7 linked regions of the Homo sapiens genome follow. The protein of the gene in region 1 interacts with the protein of each later gene in a pairwise test. Each region holds a gene or a part of one and is shown on either strand. Other genes may lie near its edges. The genes, in order: VSX2, PRPS1, APBB2, NDUFV2, JPH3, KIF1B and LRIF1.

Region 1 (3,974 bases):
TTGCACCTGACTGGCTAAGAAATCCTGGATGGAATCTTCCCAGCCTGGTTTTCCAATCTCTGCTTAAAGCAATGGACCTAGTCCTTATCTCCCCATAGGGTGCCTTCAATTCAAGGAACCTACCATGAACTGACCATATGCTAGGCGCAGTGAAGAAGGGAGCCTCAAGGTCGATAAGATAGTTCCCAGCCCCAAGAAGGTCACAGAAGAGTTAGCTGAGGTGGTGGAGTGCAGGGGAAAGCAGCTTACCTTTTAATTTCCTCTCACCCGCTTCCTCCTTCCTCTCCCTCCACATCAACAATCCCTTCCTCTTCATTCTGTTTGCTCAATGAACTCTGAAGTATAGCAGGGCCCTTGCCTTGTCTGATTTACTGCGGAACCCCTGGCTACCAGGTCGGAGCTAGTAGCTCAATACATATTAGTCGAATGAATTGGGTGGAAGAATCAAGTCCTCCCATGAAAGTTGGGCATGCTTCATGCTTACTCTAGGAAGAGGTTTGGATGTCCATGGTTGTTCTCCAAAAGTAATCATCACTGTTCCTCTTTCCCACCAGGGACCCCTCTTTCTGACCCATTTATCATTCATTCATTGGGCCAATATGTGTTGAGTAGCTCTTCCGAACTAGGCATTATACCTTGTGCTGGGGAAGCAAACTTTCCCTACCCCTACATCACCCTCTGCACACCTTGGCCTGATCTTTTCCCAGCTTACCACCACACACACTGCCCCAGCACTTACCTCTCCCTTGTTCAACCGTTTACACAGAGGTGCCATATTCAGGCCGCCCTGATGCTGCCAACCTGCATAGGAGTTGAGGGAAGGAGGTCTCCCAGTCTCTCACCTCTGCCCTTAGCCCATCCTTCCACCTGACCTCAGGGACCTGTCCCTGCCAGAATCTGCCCAGAGCCCCAAGCCACTCTGCCTCCCGGAACAGCCCTGAACCTGAACCTGGTTGTCTCACTTCGGCCCCTGGGGTCCCTGCCCATGGGCATCCTGCAGAGCCCACCCGGTGCTCCACCCCCAGCACCCTGGCCATTCGACATTGCCTGCGGCGGGAGCTGCCAGCTTTTTGGAATTCCTAATCGCTCCTGGCCCCGGTGATTGGCTGCTCAGCTCTGACCCCACTTGGGCTGCCGCCTGGTTGGATAAAAGGGGAATCTCCTTGGGCTCCAGAGCATTAGACACCGGAGGGGGCACCTGGGACCAACTTCGCGAAGCGGGAAGCCCGGCGGGGGGGTGGGGGGAGCTAAAGACCTGCGGCCTCAGCCCCTCCAAAGAACAGGGAGATGACGGGGAAAGCAGGGGAAGCGCTGAGCAAGCCCAAATCCGAGACAGTGGCCAAGAGTACCTCGGGGGGCGCCCCGGCCAGGTGCACTGGGTTCGGCATCCAGGAGATCCTGGGCTTGAACAAGGAGCCCCCGAGCTCCCACCCGCGGGCAGCGCTCGACGGCCTGGCCCCCGGGCACTTGCTGGCGGCGCGCTCAGTGCTCAGCCCCGCGGGGGTGGGCGGCATGGGGCTTCTGGGGCCCGGGGGGCTCCCTGGCTTCTACACGCAGCCCACCTTCCTGGAAGTGCTGTCCGACCCGCAGAGCGTCCACTTGCAGCCATTGGGCAGAGCATCGGGGCCGCTGGACACCAGCCAGACGGCCAGCTCGGGTAGGTGAGGAGAGGTTGCGCTGCTGCCTGACTGGGGGGCGACAGCCGGGAGCCCCGCGCCGTCGGCTCTCGCTTGCTGGACCAGGCCTCCAGGCGGAAAAGTTCCTGCCAGGCCGGGGGTCGCCGCCTGGGCCTTGGGCCGACGCGCCTGGTGATGGGGCCCGGGAGGATGCTTCGGCGTCCGCAGGGTTTCGGCCCCAAGCGTTTCGGGCGGCCGCGCAGTTCTCCAGTCCCCGCGTCGGGCAGGGCTCGGCCACGGCACTCTGTTGGAGCCCCACTGAAAACTGGGTTTGGGGTGTCGGAGCCCGTGGTGCAGAGTCGCCGGCCGTGTCGGAGGGCCCCAGCACCGCTGCTCCACTGCGGCCCCGGCCTGGTGTAGGATCCGCACTCCTCGAGCCCGATGCTGTTCCGGCTCCGGCCCCATCCCTGGTGTCCAAAGTTGTCTGATTCCCAAATCCCGCGCTGGTCAACTGGGGTTTATTTTTCACCCCCACGAGCTCAGACAACCCGGCCATCGCGGCAGCTAAAGCGGCCGCCATCCTCTCCCACGTAAGCGCCACTATATACTGGAGCCCGGGGACGCGCGGGCTCGGGGACCCTGGGTGACCTCTCCGCCTTCTCCCCGCGCTGCTTTCCGGGAGGTGTGTCGCGGCCCGCTCGAACCTCCGATTCCTGTTTGAGCTTGGCAATTCCCCCGATTTTTCGTTGCGTTTTACTTTGTTTTACGTGGAAAGGCAACGAAAACCAGCGCGTCGCAGGCTCTCGGGCCTCGAGTAGGGACGCATTGTGCCGCCTTGCGAAAAGGACGGTGCTCGGCAGCCCCCAGTCTTCCCGGAGCCCAGCTCCCCACGCCTCCGCTCCGCTCCTCGCTCCTCGAGGCCAACTTTCCGGCCCGGGGCATTGGGGCTGGCCGCGCAGGGCAGGGCGCAGCAGGGTCGCGAGCGCTGCCGGGGATCTCTGCGGCCCCCTAAGGCTGCCTCGCTCTCCGTCGTCCCGGTCCCAAGCGCGCCGGGGCCTTTGCCTCTCTTACAACGAAATCTGTTCAAAACCTCCGGATTCGGGCCCCGGCGCGGGAGAGGTCAGCCTGAGCTCAGGGATGGGACGGCCACCGGGGCGCCCGCAGGCTTCCTGGGGAGACAGAGCAGGTCCCCGCCGCTCGCGGAGGCAGCCCGGGGTGGGGCCCTCGCGGGTTTCGGGCACAGCGGAGCGCGTCCCCCACTCTGCCGCATGTCCCTACGCCCGCTTTTCAGATTCTGAAGATGTTTCCTCCAGCGATCGAAAAATGTCCAAATCTGCTTTAAACCAGACCAAGAAACGGAAGAAGCGGCGACACAGGTGAGGCCCCCGCTTTCTGTTACCTCTCCTGCCCGCGCACCCCGCTGCCGTCCCCCGTTCCGGGATCGGGTCTCTCGGACCCTATTTTCGCCGACAACGGATCTGAGGTCCGAGGCCGTGCCAGGGCGCAGACCACGGGTTGTTTGGCGGAATCTGCCCGGGGGCCTTGGCGTCGGCACCGGTTGAGCAGGATGAGTGGCCGCCGGGAAAGCGGCCCGGTTCGGGCTTTCTCCTCCTTGTTCAGGAGAAAGGAAAGGCTCCAACACAGGCCAAACTGAGCCACAGAGTGGGGGCGGTCCCCAGATCCCCGCACCAGTACATTCTGAGAGCCACACAGACCCGGCGGCGGGCAGATTAGCTCCCACCTCCTGCCAGAGCCGGTTCTTTGCCCTCGGCCTCAACCGCCGCCCCCATTTCTCTCCCGGGGTCCCTGTCCTCTCTGCCAACTCCCTAAGCTTTCTGCTCCCACCGTTCTCCAAAGCTGGAGCGATCTCTGCACTGACAGAGCATTTTCTTTTGGCTTCTGCTCATTCGTGATTCTGACCGAGTCGCTTCCCTTCTGTGAGCCTCAGTTTCCTCGTCTGCAAAATGGAGTGGTAGGCGATGTAGACTGGACGGTCCCACCAGCCGTAGCTGGAGTAGGGTGGACTGCATCGGGGTACAGACTAGAAAGGGTTTTGTTTTGTTTTGTTTTGTTTTGTTTTTGTCTTTAAATGGAAATTACTTGCACAAAGTTAAAACTCAGTAGATGCCGACAGGTATATCTTGAAAAGTAACCTACCCTTCTCCCACCCCCGCCCTCATTCCCTTCCGCACCAGCCGCACTGCTACCAGTTCCTTGGGTACATTTGTAAGGTGGTTTTCAAGGAAATAAAGGAGAAAGAACCAAAAATCTGCCTGCCTTTCTGCGGGTGCTGCTCGCAGGTGCTGCCCCGGCGCTCACCTCGGAGCTATTTCCCCGCACCCCACTCCGTCCCCATCA
Region 2 (3,500 bases), on another chromosome or scaffold:
CTGGGATTATAGGCGTGAGCCATCACGCCCGGCCATATGAAATAATCTATGCACATGTTCCCTTATACTTTATTGTTATTTATTTATTTTTTGTAGAGATGGGGTCTCACTGTATTACCCAGGCTGGTTTTGAACTCCTGGGCTCAAATGATCCTCCTTCTACCCTGCCCCCTGCTCCCCAAAGTGCTGAGCCACCATGCCAGGCCCTCCCATATATTTTATTTTATTTTATTTTATTTTTGACACAGAGTCTCACTCTGTTGCCCAGGCTGGAGTGCAGTGGTGTGATCTTAGCTCACTGCAACCTCCGCCTCCTGAGTTCCAGCGATTCTCGTGCCTCAGCCTCCTGAGTAGGTGGGACTACAGGCGCCTGCCACCATGCCCTTCTAATTTTTGTATTTTTAGTAGAGATACATGGTTTCGCCATGTTGGCCAGGCTGGTCTCGAACTCCTGACTTCAAGTGATCCACCCACCTTGGCCTGCCAAAGTGCTGGGATTATAGGCATGAGCCACTGCGCCCAGCCCTGCCATATACTTTAAATCATCTCTAGATTACTTATAATACTTAATACAATATAAATACTACGTAAATAGTTGTTATACTGTATTTAGAAAATAATGACAAAGAAAAAAATCTGTACATGTTCAATACAGGTGCAATTTTTTCTCCAAATATTTTCAATCCACACTTGGTTGAATCCATAGATGTGGAACCTATGGATATGGAGGGCTGACAGTACAGTGGTTTAAAATCTATTTCATGTTCTTTCTTTCCTCATTGTAGTGTGGAAATTGGTGAAAGTGTACGTGGAGAGGATGTCTACATTGTTCAGAGTGGTTGTGGCGAAATCAATGACAATTTAATGGAGCTTTTGATCATGATTAATGCCTGCAAGATTGCTTCAGCCAGCCGGGTTACTGCAGTCATCCCATGCTTCCCTTATGCCCGGCAGGATAAGAAAGATAAGGTAGGAGCAGAATTTTATTTTTTGAGCAGAGGAAGCAGGAGCACTTGCCCCAAATCACAAATAAATTCCAAAATTATCAAATATATATTTAGGGGGAATTTTAAAAATCACCTTTTCTTAGGTATTACCCTATCTTCAAAACAATAGAAATATAATTGGTTTGTATAAAGCAACACATTTGTAGTCTGTATTTTATTACAGTGATACATATATAACTTTCAGTTAGCTCACTGGTATTTTTAATTGTATCAGTAAGACTAAGCACCAACTCCTCTGGAGTACTGGAGTATATTTTTAAAATTACGGTAGATCCTCTCAAACTGTAAGATTGGGATCCTAGTTGTGACCTCTTCATAAAACTTGAAGTCTGTTATATGAATACTTGATCTGATAGATACATAGATAGATAGATAGATAGATAAACTATATATATCTCTCACCTTATCCTGGTATATTAGAGGATAAGGCATATACATAAAACTTTGCAAGTCTATTGTAATTAATGCCCAATTTTACACACAATGCCTCGAAGAAGGTCAGATATTTTTATTCCAACAGAGTATAAAGTAAAGGGCATGGGCCGGGTGCGGTGGCTCACGCCTGCAATCCTAGCACTTTGGGAGGCCGAGGCGGGAGGATTGCCTGAGCTCAGGAGTTTTGAGACCAGCCTGGGCAACGCTGTGAAACTCCGTCTCTACTAAAATACAAAAGAAATTATCCAGGCGTGGCGCTGCGCGCCTGTAGTCCCAGCTACTCGGGAGGCAGAGGCAGGAGAATTGCTTGAACCCAGGAGGCAGAGGTTGCAGTGAGCTGAGATCATGCCACTGCACTCCAGCCTGGGCGATAGAGCAAGACTCTGTCTCTACAAAAAAAAAAAAAAAAAAAAAGGCATGCATGGACTTTGCTATTTTACAGTGCAGCAAGTATGTTTTATTTGAGGAGTTCATAGTTGTTGGAAAGTTGACCTCCAGATGAGTAAGTAGTGATGTGATTTACAAAGGAAACTATAATATCTATTCTGTGATGTATCTTCAAACCTTGACATGTTAGGTGTTAAAGGTTTACATATGTATGTGTTGAAAGAGATTTTAATAAAATTATTTTTTAAAGTCTGCCTAGTTTGAATAATTGAGCATTGGAAACACTTGAATAGGATTGAAAATGTGTACATTAAGAAAACAAAAGTTAGGAAAGCATTTTCTTTATTGATAAGTGTATCCTGATTTGGAAAAGTGATGTTCCACTTAATATTTGTTCTGAATTATGATCCACTTAAAGTCAATGGACATGTCTCCTTCTATGAATTTCTGGGTACCATAGTGCCTTTAACATAGTAGGTACACAATAAATAGTTTCTTGAGTAAATGAATTGTTTTTCAAATTGGCTTTTTGGTTTTTCTTTTCTTTCCTCCCCTCCATTTAGAGCCGGGCGCCAATCTCAGCCAAGCTTGTTGCAAATATGCTATCTGTAGCAGGTGCAGATCATATTATCACCATGGACCTACATGCTTCTCAAATTCAGGTATCAGTGGAAGCTAAATATTGGTGTTTGAAAGGTGGGAGGAAAGGACTGATGATGCTGAAGACTGCAGAGAAGCCAAAAATTATGCCCAAGTACATCTGAAATAAACTAGATATCAACAACATTTTAAATGTGTTCACCTTAAGCATACTTCATGATCTTAGTCATTTCAGGTGGTTAGATAGGGAGGCAGTCTAGTTTTATGGGAAGAGCACTACTTTGAATAAAGGCTCTGGTATTTACTAGCTTTGTAAGCTTGGGAAGGTTACTTAATTTCTCTGAACATATACTTTTTCATTATTGTGAGTATAAAACATTAAATTCATATTATAATGCCTGGCCCATGACAGGTACTCATAGATAGGAGCTGTTATTATCATTCTTATTCTCCTTGAATATTCATGGAGTGCAGTGGCACGATCTTGGCTCACTGCAACCTCTGCCTCCTCAGTTCAAGCAGTTCTCCTGCCTCGGCCTCCCAAGTAGCTGGGATTACAGGCACCTGACACCAGGCCCAGCTAACTTTTTTGTACTTTTAGTTGAGATGGGGTTTCACCATGTTGGCCAGGCTGGTCTCGAACTCCTGACCTCAAGTGATCTGCCTGCTGCAGCCTCCCAAAGTGCTGCGATTACAAGCATGAGCCACCGTGCCTGGCCTCATGGTCTTAAATTTAGAGCCACAGATATTGGAGCCTACTTTCCAACATAAACCCAAAGTAAGGGGGGTGGAATACCACCTTTATTTTATATTTTTTCAAAGAGATTTTTCAAATCATTACATTTCAAGCTTGTGGGAATTCAATGAAGTACATTGGACAGGGACTGTACTCCTTTTATGGAAAGGAATGACTTAATTGAGAAATACAACTAATTTGTATCAACTAGAATTAGAACACAGATCTCCTGATTTCTAATTATTCACTGTGACTATTTATCATAAGTAGCTTCCATTAAGTTTATATGCCATAGCATCTCTAACTGGTTTATCCATTAGCTTTTACTCCTTAAC
Region 3 (3,500 bases), on another chromosome or scaffold:
ATGGTGAAACCCTGTCTCTACTAAAATACAAAAAATTAGCCAGGTATGGCAGCATGCACCTGTAGAATTGCTAGAACCCAGGAGATGGAGGTTGCAGCGAGCCAAGATCGCACCACTGCACTCCAGCCTGGGCAACAGAGCGAGACTCTTGTCTCTAAAAAAAAAAAAACGTGGGTTGATTACTGGGGGAACTCAGTTATCTTCCTATGTCTCTGATTGTGCCCTTTGAGGTTACATTTTCTCTGGGCATCAACCACACCTAATTAAATAGGACACCAAAAGCTGCTACTTTACTTAATATACATCAAAGAGACAGTAGCAGCTTTAACACATAGATGCCACTTCCTGCTTTCACATGCATTCCTATCTTGAAAGTTGAACAGGATTTTAACAGAGCCCCAATATCTGGAGTAATGCTGCTCTTGTAGAATAGTTGTTACATTTACATCCAGAAACATAGGGCGTTATGGCACAGGGCGTGTCCTGAGCATTCAGATGATGCAGAGCCACGGCTGTTGTGTACATGTGTGTTGGAACCACTGAGAAAGATGTGTTGCTTTTGTTCCCTGTAGTAGATTTTCCAACACCAAAGACTGAGCTGGTCCAGAAGTTCCACGTGCAGTACTTGGGCATGTTACCTGTAGACAAACCAGTCGGTATGTGAAATGTTTATTGTCTTTCCACTTTGCAAGTGTGCGGGAGCTCACAGGAGGCGTTCGCCCTCCGAGGAGGGTGAGGTCTGCTGTTTACTCTCACGCCTTGTCTTGAATCAAACTGTCACACTGTCACCTGCCAGAGAACATAAACGGTCCTGATCAAAAGATGAGTAGAGGGACAGGCCCCGCTGCTTTGACCTGTCATCCCCAGCATGCAGGACTTTAGCAATACAGACGTGGATTTCTTGTTTACCCAGTAGTCCAGAGCTGTGTGACTCAGGGCCGTGGAAGAGCTCCGCTGCTCTGAAACGAGGCCTCCATCTCTGAGGCCAGGGCACCTGCTTCGTGTCTTGTCAGCTGGCGGGCCAGGAGAAAGGACTGTGGAGGCTTCATGCTGTCAAGGAGTGACACAGTAGTGGCACACACAGCATTCAGCTCACATGCCAGGGGCAGAGTGTAGTTGCTGGGCTATACCAAGCCAAAAAGAGACTGGGAGATGAAGCCTTCACCAGGGCTAAAAAAGGCTGTGGAGAAATCGCAAGCTACATATACTGCCAAGGGGGCTGTAAGATGGTGCAGCTGCTTTGGAAAACAGTCTGGCATTCTTCAGAAGGTGAAACATAGTTACTTTAGACCCAGCAACTCAGTTCCTAGGCGTAGACCCAAGAGAAGTGAAAACGTTTGTGCATGCAAAAACGTGTATGCAAATGTTCACAGCAGAATTATTGATGAGAGTCAAAAAGCGAAACAACCTGAATGTCCTGACAAATCAACTGACAATTAGATAAATAAGATGTGATACTTCCATACAGTGGAATTTTATTTGGCAATAAAAAGGAATGAAGGACTGAAGTGCGCTGTAGCGTGGATGAAGCCTGAAAACATGCTATGAGGGAAGTCAGTCCCAAAAGACTGCATACTGTGTGATTACGTTCATATGAAACGCCCAAAATAGGCAGAGCTCTAGCGTCAGAAAGTAGGTAAGGGTTGCCTTGGTCTAGGGGTCTGGGGAGTGGGGGAAAAATGCAGAATGACCCCTACCAGGCACGGGGTTTCTCTTTGGGGTGATGAAACTGTTCTAAAATTGATTATGGTAGGTCTAGCATGGTGGCTCACACCTGTAATCTCAGCACTTTGGGAAGCCAAGGCAGGTGGATTGCTTGAGCCCAGAAGTTCAAGACCAGCCCAGGCAACATGGCAAAACCTCATCTCTACAAAAAAAATTCAAAAAATTAGCTGGGCATGGTGGCATGTACCTGTAGTCCCAGCTACTCCAGAGGCCGAGGTGGGAGGATCATCTGAGCCTGGGAGGCTGAGGCTACAGTGAGCCGTGATTGTACCACTGCACTCCAGCCTGGGTGACAGAGCAACACCCTGTCTCAAAAAAAAATTGATGATGGTGATGGGTGCGCTCTGTGAATGTACTAAAATCCACTGGATTGCACACTTTACGTGAGTGAATTGCATGTGAATGATACCTCAATAAAGCTGTCACTCCCACCCCTATCCCCCAGAAAAACTGTGGAAACAGCTGGCAAAAGGGCCCTACTCAATGGGGGGATCCACTGTAAAGGTGCCATCAAGAGACAGTGAGGGTGGAGAGAGGCTGAAGGGCCATGGTCTGCATAGGTAGACAGCGTCTAAGGCACCAGGTCCCCGGAGCTTCTCCTGACTCTCCTCTCCTACTGAAAAGGCTGTTATTTCTTTTTTTTCTTTTTCTTTTTTTGTTTTTTGAGACAGAGTCTCACTGATACTTGCCCAGGCTGGAGTGCAGTGGTGCGATCTCAGCTCACTGCAGCCTCCGCCTCCTGGGTTCAAGCAAGCATGTCCAGCTAATTTTTGTATTTTTAGTAGAGACAGGGTTTCACCGTGTTGGCCAGGCTGGTCTCGAACTCCTGACCTCAAATGATCCTGGCTCAGCCTCCCAAAGTGCTGAGATTACAGGCGTGAGCCACTACGCCCGGCCAGAAGCTGGTATTTCATTCCTGTTGAGCAAACATGAGAATGAAGTGTCCTGTCTATTAAAAAAAGATCAGTCTGGGCGTAGCTGTTATTGGTGATTTGGGCCCACATTTGAGTGTGGTAAGTGGCTTTAGGACACTTTAAATTATCCTTTTCTGTCCCCAGGAATGGATATTTTGAACAGTGCCATAGAAAATCTTATGACCTCATCCAACAAGGAGGACTGGCTGTCAGTGAACATGAACGTGGCTGATGCCACTGTGACTGTCATCAGTGAAAAGGTGAGAAGGAATCTTCGATGACATTGGTGTGTCTTATACAGTGAGTATAAGATACAGTGGTTTTCTGTGGAACTTAGGAACATAGTCAAGGCCGGAGTTGTGCATCCTTGTGATTAAGATGGCCTACATTTGAAAGATTTGGCCCTTTGTCTGGGTCTAAATCTGTGCATACCTCTGTTTTCCTGTGGCCTGAGAAACTTCTCTTCTGGTGCTTCTGATTCTGTCTTCCTCATGTGCCCCAGAGAGAAATTGTTTGCTAGAGGTGAGTGTGTGACGCTAGTAGTCGCTCACTCTCAGGGCGCCAGTATTGCCTGGGCTGTGTGATCTGGGGATGAAAAGCAGAAGATGCTTCCATTTGGGAGAGTCCTGTGACTATCAGTAGCAGAAGGAGCTATTGGTTGTCTTGAGAAGAGGCCACATTAGCCTCAGCCCAAATTATCTCAGTTTCGTGGTTGAAGAAATTGAAGCACAGAGAGGCTAAGTCATTTGCCCAGCATCACACAGTTGGAAGCAATGGAATCAGGACTTAAATCCAGGCAACCTGGCCCAGACTTGTGCCCACTTTTCTATTCTGCCTCTGTGAAGCACCTGCCAGGGAAAG
Region 4 (3,500 bases), on another chromosome or scaffold:
GTGACTCTTGCACAGGCAAATAGATATCTTGGTGGATTTAATCTGTAAATATTAGGGATCATCTAAAAGGTATATTCCTTGCCTTAGTTGGCCTCTAATAAAGGAAAAAAGAAGGGTTTTTGAATTGCCTGACCTTAGTCTTGTCTTTCTGACTAATTAGATTACTGCTTCTGTCAGTTTTGTCTTACAGCTTCTTAGTCTCTTATTAACTTCTCTTAGCTGGATGCATTTATAATGCAAATGTCTGATAGAACTGAAAAGTGAGCTTCGTTGGATGGTAGTATTGTTTGAACAACAGAAGAAATTCAGAAAAAGAGTAGAGCCCATGAAAAGACAATTAAGGAATCCTATTGGGGAGAATATAAAACTTTAATTTTTGTCATTTTGAGCTATTGGTATTGCCAGTGACAGTAAAAGGGAAAGGCTGGTAGAAAGAGCACAGGGCCCTTAGATTGAAAGAGCCTGGGCTCAAAATCCAGGTCTGTCACTAATTGTGCGGTATGGGGCAAGTTACTGTCTTTGAGCCTGAGTTTCTCTAAATGTAAAATGGAAATAATGACTCACTACAGATTTTTTAGGAATCGACGAAAAAAAGTATGTAGAAGAGCTTAACACAGAGGCACTCAAGTTTACTTGACTCCAACGAAAAGGCAGTCACTGTTTTGGCCTGCTTAAATCTTTTCTTTTCCTTCTGAAACACTGAAAAAAAAATAAGCTAGAATTCAAACCCACTGTTAATTTTGAGCTGTATATTAGGTTATGATCTTATTTACTTAAAAAAGTTACTTGGTTGCATGCTTTTCTTCTTAAAAAAAGGAAGTTACTTGGATTTTCAATTGGACTCAATTGGAATTTCTTGAGGTATAGACATTTCAGAGTCTAATGAGAAGCTAGATTCTAGAGAAAAGACTAGACTGTACTCAAAGAAGGGGGTGGGTGGGAACTCAGCTTATTCTTTGAATCATTCCAGCCTAGCTAGGTTGTTTTTTCCAGTTTTAAGCCTGGTCCTGGAATGCCTCTTTATTTCAAAGTGAAACAAAATTGAAATGGCCCAGTAAGTAGTGTAAAGATGTTAATGAGAACTTTTAATGTTTTATTCCTTTATTGAAAGTGTCTGACGTAGACATTACAATGAATGTAAAATAGGTGATATTCTTTAAACACACCAAAAAAACAATTTTCAAAGCCATTTTCAGGCCACCTGTAACTTGATAGGGATGAATAACAGTTTATGCCAGTTGAAAAAAACCGAGAGCTAAGATTTATCAGTTTATCTTCACTATTTAGTTTGTTTCTTTCTTTATTGTTTGTTTACTTACTACTTTTTTGAGACAGGGTCTCACTCTGTCTCCCAGGCTTGGGTGCAGTGCATGATCATGGCTCGCTGCAACCTCAACCTCTTGGGCGCAAGCGATGCTCCCACCTCAGCCTCTCAAGTGGCTGGGACTACAGGCATGTGCCACCATGCCTGGCTAACTTTTGTATTTTTTGTAGAGACAGGGTTTCACCATGTTGCCCACGCTGATATCAAACCCCTGGCTTCAAGCGATCTATGGGGCTTGGCTTTCCAAAGTTCTGGGATTATGGGTGTGAGCCACCGTGTCTGGCCAGCTTCTTTTATTTTATAAACATTATCTCAGCCCTTCTTATACAACTTTGAAGAGGTCGACTTCGGACTTTGAAATTAAGTTGCTCAAATGTTATGCTAGTGTGTATACGTTCAGGTTTTTTGCAGGAATAGAAGAGAAGGGTGGCAAGGATTAAAAAAAGATTAAATAACTTGCATCTTTCTCTCTTAACAGGAGCATTGTAAGCCAAGGAGGCAGGGCTTTTCATTTCTTATCTGCCTGCCTGTATATATGGAGGCCTGATTTTCTTCCTTAAACTCCTTGGTTTCTTAGACCTACTATGTTCTTTTAAAGCTTTGATGTCATCAAACAGTCAGGTGGCTAATAATAAGGTCATGGCCTTTGTAATCATCTGGCCCTAGGATCTAACATAATTTCTGCCAATAATTAGTGATGTGACCTAACCTTGAGAAGTTTTCATAACTCATTTAAATTTCTGGGAATAATACCCACCTTGCAGGAAACTTTAAGAATTAAATAATGTGTAAAAAGCTTAGTGCCTGACACATAGTACTTCTAATAATAATAGCTAATGATAGCCAACACTAATACAGTACTTACCATCTGCCAAGCAGAATATTAAGCACTTTACATGAAGTACATCTTTTTTTTTTCCCCCCGAGACAGAGTCTCACTCTGTTGCCCAGGCTGGAGTGCTGTGGCACGAGCTGGGCTCACTGCAACCTCTGCATCCTGAGTTCAAGCGATTCTCCTGCCTCAGCCTCCTGGTTAGCTGGGATTACAGGCACGTGCCACCACGCCCAGCTAATTTTTGTATTTTTAGTAGGGATGGGGTCTCATCATGTTGGCTAGGCTGGTCTCGAACTCATGACCTCAGGTGATCCGTCCGCCTCAGCCTCCTAAAGTGATGGGATTACAGGCATGAGCTACTGTGCCCGGCCTGAAGTACATCTTTTAATGCTCTCAAGAACCCTATGAAGTACATGCCGTTATTTTTCTGTTTTTATAAATGAGGAAACAGGCTCTAGAGCTGAGCTTTTAGCCATTTTGCTATATTGTCTCTCCATACATAGGATATTTATGGAATATTAGATAACAGTGATACATCCCACCTTCAGAGGTGCTAGAATGTGGAAAATGTGTTTATTAGAAATGATGAAATTGACATTTCATATACTAGAACGTGTTTGGTGTTGGTCATCTTTTACACCACACTCAGCATCAGAAGGGTTTTTTTTTTTTTTTTTTTGATAGAGAATCTCGCTCTGTCGCCCAGGCAGGAATGCAGTGGCTCGATCTCAGCTCACTGCAACCTCCACCTCCTGGGTTCAAGCAATTCTCCTGTCTCAGCCTCCCAAGTAGCTGGGACTACAGGTGTGCGCCACCACACGCGGTGAATTTTTGTATTTTTAGTAGAGATGGGGTTTCACCATATTGGCCAGGCTGATCTCGAACTCCTGACTTTGTGATCTGCCCACCTTGGCCTCCCAAAGTGCTGGGTTTACAGACGTGAGCCACTGCGCCTGGCCAGAAGGATGGTACTTTTAAAATTAGTTTGGTGATATTAGACAGGATGTTTTGGATTGAGAAAAAGGGATCAGCCAGAAGACTTACAGTAATGCACAGACATGAAATAATGTCTGAAATAGTGGTGATAGTAAGACAGGGAAAGAACTAAAGACTTCATTGGGTTTTTTTGTTTGTTTTTGTTTTGAGACAGGGTCTCACTTTGTCACCCAGACTGGAGTGCAGTGGTGTGATCTCAGCTCACTGCAACCTTCACCTCCCAGGTTCAGGCGATTCTCCCACCTCAGCCTCCTGAGTAGCTGGGACTACAGGTGTGCGCCACCACACCCGGCCAATTTTTGTATTTTTTGGTAGAGATGCAGTTTCACCACGTTGGCCAGGCTG
Region 5 (3,500 bases), on another chromosome or scaffold:
AGCATGGGCTGCTGGGCCTCAAAGGCTGTCGGGGGGTTGGCAGGGGGTGGGCTCCGTCAGTTTCACAGCTGCACCAGCCTGCAAACCCATCCTTTCCCTCTCACTCCCTCCACCCGTCTGTCTGTCCTTCTGTCCATTAAGTAAAATGCCTCCCCAGGAGACACAGGGATGCTGGCCATGCCAAGGCTGGCTGGCCAGCGTCCCAAGGGCTGGGGACTCAGTAGGAGCCGTGCCCACCCCACCCTGGCCCCGGCTCCTTTGCATGGGTCTCAGGTCTCGCCCTCCCGGCCCAGCCCCTGGGCTTTCACCCCAGCATGATGCCCACTTATACGTAGGCATCTCCCCCAGCAATGCTCCACAGAGCCCCTGGGCCCCCCAAAACCCCAGGAAGAGGTTGGATGCCCCAGGAAGGGAGCTGTTACCACCTAAGCTTCACAGGCCTTCAGAGATTAGAAGTTGAGGTCCAGAGAGGCTGACAACCTGCCTTGGAGCAGCTCCTCACCTGTGCTGCCCCCAGCCCTGTCCATGCCACCTGGGCTCCTTAATGGGAACCCGCTTCTCTTAATGTCTAGGGGAATTCGTCTGAAAACTATCTCAGGTCGCAGGTCCCCCCAGTCCTACAGACATCCACCCAGTGCCAAGGCTGTGAAATAAGCTCAGTCCTGCAGGGCACTGTCCACTAAGTCCTCGAGCTGCTGAGAACTCATGAACCAATGAACTCATGAACCAATCTGCAGGTCACACGGAAGCTGCCACGAGCTTCCTCAATTCCGTGACGCCGCTGTCCCCCAGCCCCCAAAACTGCTTCTTGTCCACTAGGGTCAAAAAAGCAACTATACAAAATAGAAAGGGTCGAAAAACAAAACACAGAGGAAAGAAATTCACCAAAATGCCAAGGAGAGCGCTCGGCCGATCCATCAGACCAGAGCTAATGCTGCTTTCTCCCTTCTCAGTGTTATTTATTTTCCTGTGGAACAAGTATTACATTTATGATGGAAAAAATAACTACTGATTCTAATTTGTTCTTAAAACCCCAGATGAGTAGTCACACGTGGGCTGCTGTTTATTTCCCTGCCTGAACATTTCTGAGGGAGCAGGGAGGGGCAAACAGCGAGTTTGGACCTCGGTGTCAGGTAGTAATTCCATGTTTCTTTCAGCTTCTTGGAATCGATCTTGATTCCCTCTAAAACAATAGAAGTCGCGAGCAACATATTCTGCCAACAAACCGCAGCCACCATTTTTGTTTTTCACTATAGATCAAAGGTCACTGAAAATCAGAACCAAATGGGCTGAACTTTAATTAGCGACAGGTCGGGAAGGGCTGAGCCGCACCCAGGCTGGGAGCTTTCCTGGAGGAACTCCAGGTCTGCCCCTGGCTGAGAACACAAAGCCATCCAGAAAGACGCAGGGGAACGTGCCCTGGGAAGCCTCCTGCCTGGGCAGCCCATGGACTCCCCCGCAGCTCCCAGATCCCTGCCCCAAGACTCTCCGGGCTACCCCAAGGGCCCTCGTCTGGCCCAGGAAAGCAAATGCCGGTGGAAAGCAAAGGCTCTGGGTTTTCTGAAATGCCTTCCCAAGTCTTGACAAAGCCCTTTAGTAACCTCAGTTACTTTAGAACCCAAATGCCTACCTGTGGGGCCCGTGGCTTTCCACAGGGGAACTTCCTCCAACCTGCAGCAGGTGGCTCCTGCCAGCCACAGCTTGGCGGGGACCAGCCCCTGGCTCACACACTCACCTCCACAGGAGCCAGACCCTGGGCACCTTCCTCCAGCCCTAAAGGCCCCATCCTGCACCCACCCCTAAAGGTACCCAAAAGCCACGTCGATCCCACCCACAGTCACCTCTGGACCCATTCCTTAGGGCCTAGAGGCCCCACTGGACCCCAAATTCCGTAAGTCATGCAGCCGATTCAGAACAGCGGCTGCCCCCAAAGCACCAGGCCTGCATGAGCCCCTTGCCAGGCACTCGGAATTGGCCTCCCAACTGCTGCCATCTCCCAGGGTCCCGGAAGAATCTAGATCGCAGGTCTGGGTAGCTGAGGCAGCTCCTAGCCACCTCCCACAGCCCTGCAGTGCTGGACCTGCCACCCCCACCTGGTGGTGTCACCCCTACTAGCTAGCACAGCAGCACTCCAATGCATTGTACTAACGGAACAGACCACCTTCTTTATTCACCAATATTTTACACTAAACATCAGCATATAGAACAAAGAGACACTGCTCAGTTTAAGGAGGCTGTAGGCCTCTACACCCCCACAAATCAACCATTCCTCTGCACCAATCCTGACCACAGTCACCTCTGAGAACCTCCAGGGAACCCTAGGGTTCCATGGGGGCATAGTTTGAGAAACACCAGTGTAGGCCTCAAACTGGGCCTAGCCCAAGGCCTTGAGCGACAGCAGGACTGAACAGACTGGGCTCACAAACACCTTCTGGGCACCAAGAAGGGCCCCCCGCCCCCTCGCCCTCCTACCTGGAAGCCGCGATCTCAGCCTTCTGCTTGGCGATGGTGGCGGCCCGCTCAGCGGCCTCAACGGCGCGGTCCACCTTCTCGCGGATCTTGCTGGCCCGCAGGGGGATGAGGTTCTTGCGCTTGCCGCCGACGAGGATGTTCTGCTTGTACTTGCCCTCCTCCTTGGTGCCGTCCGGGAAGGTCATGCAGCCGTAGCCATGGCGCCGGTTGCTGGCCCACTCGCCCTCGTACTTGAGCCCGTCCGAGCGCTGGCTCACGCCGAAGCCGGAGCGTTTGTCGTTCTTCCACTCGCCCACGTAGGTCTCGGTGGTGGTGGCGTCGATGTCGTCCTCGATGACCGCCAGCTCGGCCTCAGCCTCGCCCAGGCTGATGGTGGAGTGGATGTCGCTGGCCGTGGAGCTGACGGTGCTCATGCCCGCCTCGCTGCGAAAGGAGCTCTGCTTGCTGCGTTGGCTGGCCAGGCTGCTCTTGGACTCCGACTTGCGCAGCTTCAGCCCACTCAGCAGCGAGCGCCGAAACAGCCCCTTCTTCTTGCTCTTGAGGATCTCGGAGTCACTGTGGGCCACGAGCACGAAGCCCCCGCGGGACACGGCCGGGCTGCCGGCCACCGCCGGAGAGGCGTCGGGATGCAGCGCCGTGCCGTTGGTGTGCTCGCTGCGCAGGGAGTTGATGGACGTCCTCAGGGGTGAGCGGATGACCGCGGCCATGCCATACGGGACGCTCTGCCGGACGCCGTAGCCCTGGCGCATGCCACCGACCCACTGGCCCTGGTAGGTCCCTGGGGAGAAAATGAGAGAGGGGTGAGTGCCCAGCGACAGAGGAGGGGGCACAGCCTGGCCACGGACAGGGTTGAAGCAGCCACAGTCCTGTCTGAGCTTCCTGTTGTTTTGTGTTTTTTGAGACAGGTTCTCGCTGTGTTGCCCAGGCTGGAGTGCAGTGAGACCATCACAGCTCACGACAGCCAGGAACCCCTGGGCTCAGGCGATCCTCCTGCCTCAGCCTCCTGCGCAGCTGGGACTACAGGCGTG
Region 6 (3,500 bases), on another chromosome or scaffold:
CACCACTGAAGCAAATTCCAAAACCACTATCAAGAGGCAAAGGCTACCAGAAAAGCTCTATTTCCTTAAAAAGTATTTGGTTGTAACAGAAGTTAAGATTTGGCTTTAAGACATAAAAAGCCCAAAAGAGTACCTCTGTGGACTATTTTTTCAGGCTAAGGCTACCGGGAGATTTAAGTTCATTCTCCATTAAGGAAATTAAAGAATAGTGCTTGGTATCATTGAGACAGAAGCAATTTGGGTGAGTACTGCTCTGTGGAACAGGGAAAGTATGGGAACAAGCTGCCCTTTTCCCAACAGTTTAGCAGATTCAGGACTCCTACCAGTCTCTGCTGCTCCAAAAGAAGATCTGCTTCTTCCTTCTCCTTTTTGTATAAGATCTCCATTTCCTGTAGCCTAGAAGTAAAAAAAAAAAAAAAAATTCAAGAATGCTATTAGTATTACATGTTTAAAAGAAGAAACAGTCATATGGGCTGCGTAACTGTGCATTACCTTTTCTCCATCTCTTGTTTCATATCAATTCCTTGTTTTTCCAGAAGCTCCCTCTGGGCAAATGTCCAGTCCACAGGCTCAGAGGGGGTCTCAGCAGAAGGAGTCTTCTCTCGCTCAGCTCGTGCTTGTTCCGGGTGGTTAAAGCGGAAAACATGGTTTTTACCCATGATGATACGGTTTCCTAGCACAAAACAGAAAAATAGGGTTAAGAAATAATTTTTTTAATATATAGTATCTATTTAACAACCTCACCCCTCCCTAATGTGAAAAGACAGCTTTCAGAGCTGTTGTTTTTACAAGAACAAAAATCCTAATGCTGACTATTACTTCAGCCTTTAAACAGCCAAAAATTAGAGTTGTCACAGAAGCCATGTGCACATTGCTGAAGATGGCAAACCTCTCCCAGTCTCACCTGAGCGCAGCTGAACAGGCTGGGACACCCTCTTGCCATTTACGTAGGTTTCTGAGCGCTCACAGGGCTCTAAGGTCACGATAACTAAGAGGAACAAACACAAACTAATGTTATCATTACAAACTATTGGAATCAAATAATGGAAAGCAGTTGCTTATCAGGATTTGCAGTAAGTAGAATAAATCCCTGCAATCAATCAAGTGGCTGAAGTTGTCTATACAGTAGTTCATTTTGGGGTACCAGAACTAGCCCCAATAGAAGAGGCTATCTGTGGCCATGGCTAACACAAGAACATTTAACTCTATTTGATAAACCTAAGAAGATGATAGGAAATATTAGTTTCAGGGATCTCTGACGGTTCAGTCAATAAAACTCAGAACCATCAGAAATTGTAAGGATGAGATATAGGTAATAACCAGAAACTAAAGACTGAGAAGCTAATATTTTGATAAGGGAATGAGTGACTTATATAACAGAAAAAAACCATTAAATTGTTGTTTTGTTAATAACCCAGGCAAAAATCAAGACTGACTTTTTCTTCCCTTTTAGATAAAAATAAATTCTGCTGGGTTGACTTAATGTCCTTCAAATCTCCTATTACCCAGGATATCTGCTATTTTCTTACTTTTCTATTAAATAATTAACATTCCAGACCAAGCCTAATTGCCTATGTCCTTCTCAGTTCTTGGCAGTAAAAAAGGGCTTCTTTTGTCCAAGCTATTTTCATGTAAAGCAGCCTTGTCCATCTCTGCATTCATAAGCAGCCCAGGTCTCTCCATTTTTCAGAATTAGATTGTATAAGAAAGTACTACTGATAGACAGAGAATACAAAGTCTTAAGGATTTCTCATAATATAAAATGAAAATGTTGTTGCTGAAGCTCCAGCCAGGAATGCTCACCTTCCCCGCTGTTGCTTCTCTCACTCCGGAAGATACAATGCTCTTCTTTAATGTGAGCCCCGCTCAGCACTATGTCCTGGCGCCGCTCAGCATCTGCTTGGCCAACCCTGAACACAAGAGAAAGTGTTTCCCAGGGAAATTCAGACACAGAAAGCACTACAAACAATGAACCTCTTTATTCCAAAGAATATCCTTTGGTACGTACAAAAAAGGTATTGCCTTGTTGCATCAGAAGCTTTCAACTATGAATTCTATCCTCACATATGATCAACCTCTCTACATCAGAATAAGAAACAAGGAGCACTGATATACCAATGTAACTCATACAGTATTATAAAGACATGAGTCAAATAAAATCCCTAAGGAATGTATATTTGTTAAAGGAAAAAAAAATTATTTAGGGTCTTCAGAGAAAAACTACATAGTAACTGGCTCCAGTGGCAAAAACACATTATTTGGAAAGAGAGCATAGTTTGTAACTATTTCAGACAAAAAATACAGCAAATCATTACGTTAATTTTTTCAACCCCTTCCCTTTAGTTATTCAATTATCTAAGAGGGGGAAAACACACGAAGTGACCAAAACAGGAAATAAATATACCTTGTAATTCCATCTTTGATGTAATAAAGTAGGCACTCAGACATTAGTGGGTCTTCATTGAGGTTAACAAGATGTGGGGTCTGAAAAAGATTACAGATGATCAATTTGGAGCAGGGCACCATGAGAGAGCTGTGGTAACAACAGGGGCCTACAAGAGGCCAGGCTTCTCCAACTCTCCACAGAGCCTAGAGAGGGATTTCTTTTTATCCCTAGTTGCGGTTCCATAATAAAGAGAAAACACTCTCTTCAGGCCTCACCAAACGGAACCAAGTGCATTCTATTTTATTTTAATTAATTAATTAATTTGAGACAGAGTCTCGCTCTGTCTAGAGTACAGCGGCATGATTTTGACTCACTGCAACCTCTGCCTTCCAGGTTCAAGTGATTCTCCTGCCTCAGCCTCTCAAGTAGCTGGGATTACAGGTGTTCGCCACCACGCCTGGCTAATTTTTCTATTTTTAGTGGAGGCAGGGTTTCACCATGTTGGCCAGGCTGGTCTCGAACTACTGACCTCAACTGACCCACCCTCCTTGGCCTCCCAAAGTGTTGGGACTATAGGAGTGAGCCACTGTGCCTGGCATTCCATTTTAAAACATGAGTTCTGGGATAAAAAAACAAGACCTAATTTTTGATAAGGTCAAAGCACAAGGAAAAAATGACAGGCCAATTCTCTGAACGGAATAATTATAATTTTTGTAAATGCCTGGGTAAAAATCTCAAGAAATATTTACTTTTATTAAAATGTCCCCATACCCCCCCACCACTTCCCACTATAATTTTTATCAGTTCTTCTGATCCCAGTTATTAATTTGTCTTTACCTTAAAAGATTTTAATTTATTAGTCTTTACCTTAAAGAAAAAAGTAAAATTACTGATATTCGATAAGATAAACATCTTCTAACAATCCTCTTCATCTAACTCTAATATTTCTAAAATCTTTTTAAAAAACCAACCTTCTTTAGTGAAAATAACCCACTGGAATCCAAAAATAAGTCACATGGTCTTGAGGCCAAAATCTACTCAAGAGAGTGCCAGCAAATGTGGAAGAATGAAAGAAGAGTCAGATGAGGGGGTAGGAAAAGGAACTATAAAAGAT
Region 7 (3,500 bases), on another chromosome or scaffold:
AGACTGACACAGGTGTACATTTTAGATAACGTTGGCAGTCTGGATTTGAGGGTGAGTGATCTACATATAAGGATCCTATTTCAGTTGTCTTTTCAGAAATTCTGAGGGCCTGAACTAGCTGGTACAGTACAGTAGGGGTTGGATTCAAAGAAATATAGAAGGGAAAATAGACCGACTTCGTTAATGAATTGGCAGGAAGAAAGGGGGATCAATTATGATGCCAGTTTTCTGGGTGGATATTGGTAAATTAACTGAGATGAGGAACACATCAAGAAAGCAGTCAGATATTTGAATATGAAACTCAGGCTGAGTCAGAGCTGAGACTAGAGATTTGGGAAGCATCACCTTAGAGGTACTATAATGAAAGCCTGTGATTATATATCCTACAATAATAAGAATTAAGACATCATGTGATTGGCCATTGGCAGCTATCTTCCCATAACCATTTGTATTCAAATGGGGAGCTAAACTTAAGTGTTCTCAGCAGGGGGTTTGGTTTGACTGGAATGATGATGCTTCATTGTCAGTTCAGTATGCATTTTGTTGTGTACAGTGTTTTATTTTGTGATTTGAGTGTGTCTGTGTGTGTGTGAGGGAGAGACAGACACACATACTATAGAGTCTAAATGAAATCTGTCATTAATCTCTTAGTTTATACATTTGAATTTTTTGGACCCTGTTATAATGGGGTTATGCTAAAGTAAATATAGAAAGTAGATAAGCTTTCTCAAGGGGAGTGTGTAATTCTAAGTAAGTTATTAAATGTTTCCAAATCTCCATTTTCTCAAGTATAAAATGGGAATGGCAGTTCATAACTTTCTTGACTGTTTATTAGGATTAGAGTTAGTAACAACTGGTATATCTATCATGTACGCAATACATGGTACATATTATTGGATAGATAACTATGTTATGTACTTAGATATATTATGTTCTATATGTATATAATGTTATGTCATAGATAGTAAGAAAAGGATTTCCTAGCAGTTGAAAAAAATATATTTTGCAAAAATATCTATAAAATGTTCATCAGCCTTCAACATTTTTATTAGTCTATTTCTAATATATGAATGCCTCATATCAATATTAGAATAGTAAAAAATGTCAGAAGTTATATAACATTACCAATATGTTTAATGTGCCTTTTTATTAAATTTCTCATTCTTTTTTTTTTTTTTTTTTTTTTGAGATGGAGTCTCGCTCTGTCGCCAGGTGGAGTGCAGTGGCTCGCTGCAACCTCGACCTCCTGGGTTCAAGTGATTCTCCTGCCTCAGCCTCCCAAGTAGCTGGGACTACAGGCGTGTGCCACCACGCCCGGCTAATTTTTGTATTTTTAGTAGAGACGGGGTTTCACCATGTTGGCCAGGATGGTCTCGATCTCTTGACCTCATGATCCGCCCACCTCAGCCTCCCAAGGTGCTGGGATTACAAGCATGAGCCACTGCACCCGGCCATATTTCTCATTACATTTTTAAAAGACCTTATCTTACCTTATTCTCAGAGACCAATTGCATATTTTAATGGAAGATGATAACTGTTATGCTCCCAGGCAGTTATTTCATTTACTTCTCCTAGTAAGCTTTATTTTCCCCTATTTAACAAATGAAGAAACAGATTCAAAGAGGATAAGTACATTTTCTAGTCAACTTGTAATTATAAGAACCAGAATTAGTAGCCTGTAATCTTTCTAATATGTTCCTCTTTTCTCTTTTAAACTGTTAAACTGTATTATTTTTCAAATGTAGTTTCTCAGTTTGAACACCAGCTGGTTTAAAGTAATTACTTTAAAGTAATTAGGTGACCAGACTAGAAAATGGGATGCAGAATCTGGTTCTAGTTTTAGTTCTGACATTAGCCCGCAGAATATGATCTTTCAGAAAACAGAATCTTTGTAGGACTTTAATTATTTAATCTCTTCAATGGAAGGCTCCTTCTAGATATGAAAAACTGTATATTGATAGAAGGAGTACGAATTTCATCCTGAGTTATTACTTCTTAGCATTCTGCAGATTAATTTTTAGAACTCATTACATTTTGTTGCCAAGAAATCATGGATTTTTAAAAAAATTATACCTTGTAGGATTCAATTCAGCTAACATTATTGTGTGCAATTTCCAGTTTCTGAATTAGATGCGGAGTATATAGATATGAATAGGATAATCTACCCTGCAGGAATTTATGGTCTGTGGTAGATTATGTGACTCTCACTGATACACTGACATGGAAGAAGCTTAATTTTTCTTCCTTTTTTTTATTTTTTGGAGGTGAAATAGAGGAAAAGAGAGGGAAAAATTTAGTGATCAGATTGGAAAATAGCTCACACAGTATAGTTTTTTTTATAAAGCAGAAATATAGACATCATATAAAATACTATGCTTGGTATTGGAAGGATATTTGCAAAATAAATTATAAAGCCTCTCACCTTAAGGAGTTTCAGTCTTATTGAATGAAACAATACTCATTTTAAAAAATTAGCTAATAGATTAAAGTCAATAAAGAAAGCATTATATAATTTCCAACATTAATAGCACCAATGGGAGTACATTCGGGATTCCAAGTTGGAAGAAATTAAGCTGGAGTGACTGGCAGATATTTTATGGAAAAGATAGAATTGGAAACTAATTTTATATTGTTGGAGAAGAAAAATAATAATACTTTGAGTAAATAATGTAATATACATGGCATATTCCAGAATAGCAAAGAGATCTCTCTGGTAAGAGCAGAGATTTCACATTGAGAAGTTGTGGGTGGTATTGTTGTAGAGATTGGTTGGAGCTAGATTGTAGATGATTTTCGCGTCCAGCTGAATTGGCAATGATGAATACTAAAACTTTGAACAAGAGATAACAGGATGAAAACAATTTTAGTCTGCCAGAGATACATAATAGTCAATAGTGGCTGCAATCAGAAAAACAACATCAGCAAAATACTGTAGGGATGAGAATGATGAGTGCTAGACACATCTGATGAGGATCTCATGTAGATGGTGGAAGTCACAATGATGAAGAAAGAAAAGATGGATGAAATGGGTTAAAAAGAAAACCGTATAGACTTGATGATTCAGTATGCATTTATTAAATGTTTGCCTTTTGTAAGGACATATGCAAGGTTCTGTGGATGAATTTAAAGTAAATAAGAATGATGATAAAGACAAATCAGCAATGACTAGGTGATTTGAAACCTATATGATGTGGAAAATATTGGCGCTGCCATATGATTGAATGGTAGGATAGACTACTACTTTTCAATAGAGAGTAATTTTAACTTCGTAGATTTAAAGTGATGGGATTAAAATGTTTGGTAAGACATCACAAATATGGAACTGATGTCAATTCCAGTAGGGGACAGGAATAAAAGGATATAACTATGGGAGTCATTATTCCAAAGAAGATAGTTGAAAATAGTTGAAGCCGTGAGAATTGTTGCAGTCTTTTTTTTTTTTTTTTTTTTTTGAGACTGAGTCTTGCTTTGTCGCCCAGGCTGGAGTGCAGTGGCGCGAT

Evidence for each region.
Region 2: the proteins of VSX2 (region 1) and PRPS1 interact in binary tests that used the Homo sapiens proteins (3 or more experiments, as listed by UniProt).
Region 3: the proteins of VSX2 (region 1) and APBB2 interact in binary tests that used the Homo sapiens proteins (3 or more experiments, as listed by UniProt).
Region 4: the proteins of VSX2 (region 1) and NDUFV2 interact in a two-hybrid assay, tested with the Homo sapiens proteins (one large-scale study listed by IntAct).
Region 5: the proteins of VSX2 (region 1) and JPH3 interact in binary tests that used the Homo sapiens proteins (3 or more experiments, as listed by UniProt).
Region 6: the proteins of VSX2 (region 1) and KIF1B interact in binary tests that used the Homo sapiens proteins (3 or more experiments, as listed by UniProt).
Region 7: the proteins of VSX2 (region 1) and LRIF1 interact in binary tests that used the Homo sapiens proteins (3 or more experiments, as listed by UniProt).

Annotation. Positions count from the first base shown.
Region 1 is NC_000014.9:74,238,275-74,242,248, forward strand, and holds the start of VSX2 (visual system homeobox 2), read left to right. Parts: upstream 1-1,174; 5' UTR 1,175-1,287; coding exon 1,288-1,657; intron 1,658-2,907; coding exon 2,908-2,992; intron 2,993-3,974.
Region 2 is NC_000023.11:107,638,510-107,642,009, forward strand, and holds part of PRPS1 (ribose-phosphate pyrophosphokinase 1), read left to right. Parts: intron 1-785; coding exon 786-969; intron 970-2,392; coding exon 2,393-2,491; intron 2,492-3,500. UniProt on the Homo sapiens protein: Catalyzes the synthesis of phosphoribosylpyrophosphate (PRPP) that is essential for nucleotide synthesis.
Region 3 is NC_000004.12:40,823,043-40,826,542, reverse strand, and holds part of APBB2 (amyloid beta precursor protein binding family B member 2), read left to right. Parts: intron 1-572; coding exon 573-656; intron 657-2,783; coding exon 2,784-2,899; intron 2,900-3,500. UniProt on the Homo sapiens protein: Plays a role in the maintenance of lens transparency, and may also play a role in muscle cell strength. Involved in hippocampal neurite branching and neuromuscular junction formation, as a result plays a role in spatial memory functioning.
Region 4 is NC_000018.10:9,109,199-9,112,698, forward strand, and holds part of NDUFV2 (NADH dehydrogenase [ubiquinone] flavoprotein 2, mitochondrial precursor), read left to right. Parts: intron 1-2,839; exon of another isoform or gene 2,840-3,500.
Region 5 is NC_000016.10:87,644,008-87,647,507, reverse strand, and holds part of JPH3 (junctophilin-3), read right to left. Parts: intron 3,251-3,500; coding exon 2,473-3,250; intron 1-2,472. UniProt on the Homo sapiens protein: Junctophilins contribute to the formation of junctional membrane complexes (JMCs) which link the plasma membrane with the endoplasmic or sarcoplasmic reticulum in excitable cells.
Region 6 is NC_000001.11:10,294,070-10,297,569, reverse strand, and holds part of KIF1B (kinesin-like protein KIF1B), read right to left. Parts: intron 2,485-3,500; coding exon 2,405-2,484; intron 1,911-2,404; coding exon 1,804-1,910; intron 989-1,803; coding exon 905-988; intron 674-904; coding exon 493-673; intron 397-492; coding exon 324-396; intron 1-323. UniProt on the Homo sapiens protein: Has a plus-end-directed microtubule motor activity and functions as a motor for transport of vesicles and organelles along microtubules.
Region 7 is NC_000001.11:110,957,423-110,960,922, reverse strand, and holds part of LRIF1 (ligand-dependent nuclear receptor-interacting factor 1), read left to right. Parts: intron 1-3,500. UniProt on the Homo sapiens protein: Together with SMCHD1, involved in chromosome X inactivation in females by promoting the compaction of heterochromatin.